Linked DNA regions of Homo sapiens. The protein of the gene in region 1 purifies or fractionates together with the protein of each later gene. This does not show direct contact. Each region holds a gene or a part of one and is shown on either strand. Other genes may lie near its edges.

Evidence for each region.
Region 2: the proteins of TNFRSF10C (region 1) and SLC15A4 purify together in Homo sapiens (affinity purification with mass spectrometry; one large-scale study listed by BioGRID and IntAct). This does not show direct contact.

The regions. Positions count from the first base shown.
Region 1 is NC_000008.11:23,112,423-23,115,432, reverse strand, and holds part of TNFRSF10C (tumor necrosis factor receptor superfamily member 10C precursor), read right to left. Parts: intron 777-3,010; coding exon 663-776; intron 1-662. UniProt on the Homo sapiens protein: Receptor for the cytotoxic ligand TRAIL. Lacks a cytoplasmic death domain and hence is not capable of inducing apoptosis. May protect cells against TRAIL mediated apoptosis by competing with TRAIL-R1 and R2 for binding to the ligand.
Region 2 is NC_000012.12:128,796,459-128,800,207, forward strand, and holds part of SLC15A4 (solute carrier family 15 member 4), read right to left. Parts: intron 2,960-3,749; coding exon 2,801-2,959; intron 2,607-2,800; exon of another isoform or gene 1-2,606. UniProt on the Homo sapiens protein: Proton-coupled amino-acid transporter that mediates the transmembrane transport of L-histidine and some di- and tripeptides from inside the lysosome to the cytosol, and plays a key role in innate immune response.

The sequences.
Region 1 (3,010 bases):
CCCACTCAGCTCAACCAAGTTCACCAAGGAGTTCTAAGGGCCAGTTTCTGCACCAGCACACTCAGGGCTCATACAGGACACCCACCCTTCAGCTGTCACCAGCACTCAGAGGAGTCATAAAAAGGAGCATAATTCATTATTTATTACATCAGATTAGGGGAAAAGCATTGTTTAGATGGCATGGTCAGTAGCAAGGGAGGTGCAAGGGCATCACCTGAGAGACTCTGCAAGGAGACGGAGGCCTTGGGGGACTTCCCCAAAGCCTGGGCCTGCTGGGGAGGAGGAAGGGGCCTGAGAACCTGAAGGCTGAGTGAGGCCGAGCACCTGCCAGGAGCACAGAGCCTGGGGGAGAGAGCCTGGCCCTGGAGCAGACCCGTGCCACTACTGAAACCTAGCCCTGTCCACTGGGCCAGGCCTTCTCTATGCTCTAATGATCCCCCCACCCTCTTGCAGCTGACAGTTTAGACGATTTCCCAGCCAGGTGGCATGCATTATAGAAAAGATTTCTTTCTATTTTTTTAATCAGTCAAATATATAATCATAGAACAGGGTGATGAAGACCAGGTTGGGCTGGAACTTGGTTCCCTGACTCATATCGGCTACAACTCCCACCTCATTGCCCCACGCTCCACCTCTGGACAAGAGGTCCACACATTCTGTACCTGATTTACAAACTGTACATGGGAAGCAAGAAGGTTCATTGTTGGAAGCGTTGGTGTAATCCACACCCTCTGTGCACGGGTTACAGGCTCCAGTATGTTCTGATCTATGAGATCCTGGGAAGGAAGAGAAAAGCCAATGAATGAGTCACCACAGAATTCCCAGAGGCTGACAGTGGTGGGGAAACTTCTTTTTTGGCCCTCACTGGAATTGAGACAGAGAAATCCACTCTTCCAGGCTTGGTCTTGTCATCCATTCAGCATCTATTACATACCTTTGACTGGCACTGCTGACAGAAATATAATACAAAATTCAAATTCTATGCAAAATTCAAATTCTATGAGAGCCATATTAAAATAGTAAAAAGAATGAGGCCAAATTAATTTTAACAATATAGTTTTAACCTAAAATATCTGAAATACTACATTTCAACATGTAATCAATACACATCATTGAGATATTTTACTTTTTTTACGCCGTCACTCACAAAATAACATCCAACCTACTGTACATGTGATCTGCCCATGCTGGTCCACCTGACCTGTTTGCTGTCCACTCACCACAGTGGCCCCCTGTCTTCGCTCAGTCTCCCCAAGCCCCCGAAACCTGGGGTTCTCATTCCTTCAGGGCCTTCTCAAGAGCACTCTTCCTGGCTCTCTGCAAGACTGGCCCTGTCCAACTTTAAATATCAGCCCAAATCACCATCCCCGAGAGGCCCCACCAACCTTGTCTATCTCCTGTCACTTAACTATTCTTCATGGTTCCCATCAGGACATCCTGACTGTTATGTATATTCATGTGTCTTTTTTTTTTTTTTTGAGACAGAGTCTTGCTCTGTCACCTGGCTGGAGTGCAGTGGCACAATCTCGGCTCACTGCAACCTCCAACTCCCTGGTTCAAGCGATTTTTCTGCCTCAGCCTCCCGAGTAGCTGGGATTATAGGCGACGCACCACCACGCCCAGATTTGTATGGAACTACAAAAGACCTCAAATAGCCAAAGTGATCTTAAGCAAAACAAACAAAAGAACAAAGATGGAGGCATCGTACTACCTGATTTTAAAACGTGTTACAAAAGTATAGTAATCAAAACTGAATGGTAATGGCACAACAATGGTAAATAAACTGATGGAACAAAATAGTGAACCCAGGTATAAATCAATGCATTTACAGTTGATTGATTGTGAGAAAGATACCAAGAACACAAAATGGGGAAAGGACAGCTCTTCAATAAATGGTGTTGAGAAAAGTAGGTATTGACATGCAGAAGAATGAAATAAGACCTTTATCTCACATCATATGTAAAAATTAATTCAAAATGGACTAAAGATTAAAACATAAGATCTGAAATGGTAAAACTACCACAAGAATACATAGGGGAAAATTTTCATGATGTTGGTCTGGGCAATGGTTTCTTGACTATGACCCCAAAAGCACAGGCAACAAAAGGAAAAACAGACAAATGAGGTTACATTACACTAAAAAGGTTCTGCATGACAAAGGAAACAATGAACAGAGTGAAGAGACAACCTACAGAATGAGGGTCAATATTCAAAAGATCCAAGATTTTGGTTAAAATCCAAAATACACAGGAACTCAAACATCTCAATAGCACACAATCAAATAATCCAAGTAAAATGGATACATGGGCGTGGGACCTGAATAGACACTTCTCAAAAGGAGACATAGAAGTGGCCAAAAAGTATATGAAAAAAATGCTCAGCATCACTAACCATCAAGTGCCAAATATCACTTCACACCTGTAAGAATGGCTATTACCAAAAAGACAAAAGGTAACAAGTGTTGATGATGGGGAGAAAAAGGAATGCTGGTACACTGTTGGTGGGAATGGAAATTAGTACAGCCATTATGGAAAACAGTATGGAGGTTCCTCAAAAAACAAAAAATAGAACAACTATATGATCTAGCAATCCCACTATTGGGTATACATCCAAAGGAAATGACGTCAGTATATTGAAGAGATATCTTCCCTCCCATATGCATTGGAGCATTATTTACAATGGTCAAGACATGGAATCAACCTACGTGTCCATGGATGGATGAAAAGTTAAAGAAAATGTGACACATAGATACAATGGAATACTATTCAGCCTTTAAAAAGAAGGGAGTTCTGTCATTTGTGTCAGCATGGATGAAGCTGGAGGATACTATGCTAAGTGAAATAAGCCAGGCACAGAAAGGCAAACACCTCATGATCTCACATATGTGGAATCAGAAAAAGTTGGTCTCATAGAGGTGGAGAGCAGAATGGTGATTACCAGGGCTTGAGTTGGATGGTGGGATGGGGAGATGTTAGTCAAAGGATACAAAATTTCAGTTAGACAGGGAGAA
Region 2 (3,749 bases), on another chromosome or scaffold:
CCCACACATCTGTATGGTGAGATCTCACACATTTTTAAAGAGTGCTCATTCACACCAATTAAAGAAGATCATTTCCTGTGTCTACTGATTTAGAAAGACAGCTGCTAATACCCTGAATTCTACCAGACTAAAGCTTTATTTTTTCAACAGATGTTTTACACTATTCGTTCAACCCTTACGACCTACCAGGCTCTGTCCTGGGCACTCAGTGGAAATGCAAACCCCAGCTTCCTGGAGCCTGGCACTAGCTGTCACTGCTGTCCCAACACTGGCATTTGACGCTACTGAGACGAGGTTGTCATCAAAATATAAACGACATCATTTTATGTGCCTATTTTGAAATACGAGTCTCCCCAAATGTACCAGTCACTGAAAACTTCCCGAGCTAAAGCTGGCAGGCCACGTGAACTGAAGGCTGAGGCCACATGAACTGAAGGCTGCGCGGCCCTGCGGGAGTGGAGGTGCGGTCCAAGCCCGCAGGCAGACACACCACGCCTCGTCAGGGTCTGTCTCAGGGTGGCATTACACAGGGTATTCGGAAACGCCTAAGTCGCCTGGGAGAAAACCTGCCGTGCATTCCTGGGCCTCTTCACAGACAGAAGGATAATTACACAGGAAGATGGCAAACACTAGGGTTTTGACATTTGACAAGACAGACTCTTGGGTCCCCAAGGAATGAGCGCACCCGCCCCCCAGGCTCACAGGCAGGGCAGGTATTCACAACAGCCCCACACTGCCAACATCTGGGCACCCACCGACAACAGCATGGATAAATGCCTCGTGACGGCTCGTACGAAGGAGCAGTACTCAGAAGTACAGGGGAGATGCTCACAGACAGAAGTGCTAAGTGAAAGGAGACAGCCACAGCCCAGCACAGGACAGGCGAGGGTAACCTGTGGGGACCAACGCTGGAATAGAACAGGTTTACCTTCTGAGGGGGGCAGTAAACTAAGGAGAGAGGCAAGGAGGGCTTCCAAAAGTTCCTCCACTGAGATCCAGACTGCAAACACAGCAAGCTGTGCTTAAGATTAGAGACCTTTACTATGGTATGCACGTTCTCCCCAGCTTAAATAACACTAATAAAAGGAGCCTGCTGGGAGGTCGGTAAGAAAAACACAATGTAACAAAACTCTGGGGACTCTCCCTTCACAGTGCTGTGACTTTACAGAAAGCTATTTCCTGTGTCGGTCACGAGATGGTGAGGTAGGGCCAGGGATAAGGGTGGCACAGACACCCCCGGAACCTGGCCTGAGAGCTGCTGCTCCTTCCAAGGCCACACAAATTCAGGGAGAACTCTCTCTGAGGAGCGGGCTTCCTGTGGATTTCCCATGTCACAGCCTTTATTTCTCTACCCAGGACGCCAAGGGCTGCTCGACAGATGAGCTCCAACTCTCCTTACTGGTGTGAACCAAGGAGGCTGCCATGCAGCCAGGGGGCACAGCCTGGGGGCTGCTGGCAAACACGCCTCCTTCATGAAACATTTCCCATTCTTGAAAACAACAGACAGATCCTGGCCCATCCCCAGCACACACGCCCTGAGAGCACCAATGCAGGGGAAGTCCACAAACAACCTGTCAGACAGAAATGATGAATGAAAGGTCAACTCTGAGATGTGAAATTAAATTAAGAATGAGGATTAAATGACTAGAAAGCAACGAGAATGACCAGCCAATCCTTTATGACACATTTAAAGATAAAACAAAAACCAAGAACCAGAATCTTCGTCTTCAGAACTATGGACTTTGGTCTTTCTTTGAAGGAAGTCTGTCCCATGTACCACAAGAGGATCTTATTCCTCGGGCTGTTCATCTTCAGGAGAAGGTGGGAATGAAACACCAGCCCCAAATCCACATGTCCTCCTCAGAGCAAGCAGCCCTGAGCTGGCCATGGAGGTGGCACCCACAGCCAGAAAACATCAGTGACAAGTGTCCATGGGACATTGGTGGCTTGGAGTTCTGGGCTTTACATTAGGACTCCACAGGCCTATACTCATGGAAGGGCTCTGGGAATTCTGCAATTTCTGCAGAAAAGTCCCTAAACGTTCACCAGATTCTCAAGGGGATTTGTAACCTAAAAGTGGCTAAGTACTACCGGACCAGAGCAAATGCCACATGATTATACAAGAAAAAGTAACAAGGTTGTTTCTGTAGATAAAATATTTTTACAAAGGAAAAGAAAGAAGAAACCTTCGCTTGCTGGGTCCATTTAAAGGCATCGTAAACCTGGAGAAAGCAAAACTCAGCTTTTATGAGTGGTTCTGTTCAACACTCAAGATGCCACCTACTGGTATTAATTGTAAAAACCCATTATGATTGATCACAAGTAATATGTTTATTTTTAAAAGTAACTTACTATCTATCTTGTCTTTTTCGTATCAGAAAAGGTGCTGTTAGGAAAAGAAAACGAAAGTACACCACCAAGTTAAAGAAAGGGAAGCTTGGGGTACAGATTCAGCTGCCTCACGAAGACTGAGCTGGACGGGCGTGGAGAAGGTGCTTGTCTGTCAAGGACGTCCCCGTAAGGAGCGGTGGCTGCAGCAGCTGCTCGCTGGGCTGTGGCCAGGGCAGGCTTGGCCCCTGGGATGAGAAGAGAGGCCTGCTTGTCTCCTGAAAACCGTTCATGATGTAAGGAAACACAGTGATGCAAGCAGCACAGAGCAGTGCTGTGGAAGGAGCGGTGGACAGGCAGCTCGGGACAGGCCATCCACGTGAAAACACCTCCGCTCACTCAGCCATCTCCTGAGTGCCTGCGCCTCCCCCTCACTGGCTATTTTCAAAAGGGACAGGATGCTGGCTCTTACCAAAGTCTGTGTGACTGCTCATCCATCCGATGGCTTTGATAGACACCAGTGCCAGCAGTCCAGAACCCACGAACGACCCGACGCCAGAGAAGAAAAAGAACAAGCCCATTATGGCACTCTGCATGGACTTGGGGGCAGCTGAGTATGCAAATTCCAGGCCTGAGGAAAGAAAAGGGAGGGTCGTTTTTGTGAAAGGGGCACTTTAACACATGGGATCAAAGCTTTCACCTAATATAGCAGAGGAAGCGTGGGGTCTCCTAGGGACTGAGTCCTGCAGACAGGCACAACCTCTTTTCTATTAGGAGGACGATGCTTACTAGCGACCAAGAATCAATGGCTATGGGCCAACTGTTCATTCTCCTAGCCATTAGGATAATTCCTAATAAATTCAATGAGCAGAAAGTTAAACTCCTTGCTCTCAAGCTTAAAGGTAATGTGATTTGTTGGCTCTTAGACTTTTGTGTTCCTTAAAGAGATTAGAGAAAAAATTTTCCTATATTGTCAAGGAATGGGAGTTTGAAAACAAAGTACACACACTAAACTGGGAAATCTACATAAGGATTCTATTTCAGAGGCAATATACTTTATCTTTTTTTTGTTGAGACGGAGTTTTGCTCTTGTTGCCCAGGCTGGAGTGCAATGGCAGGATCTTGGCTCACCGCAACTTCCGCCTCCCTGGTTCAAGCGATTCTCCTGCCTCAGCCTCCCGAGTAGCTGGGATTACAGGTGCGTGCCACCATGCCTGGCTAATTTTTTGTATTTTTAGTAGAGACAGGGATTCACCATGTTGGCCAGGCTGGTCTCGAACTCCTGACCTCAGGTGATCCACCCGCCTCGGATTCCTAAAGTGCTGGGGTTACAGGTATGAGCCACCGTGACAAGGGCAATAGACTTCAAAACTATTTTGGCAGGCCCATCTATAAATTTAGATTTTTATAACTAGACACGG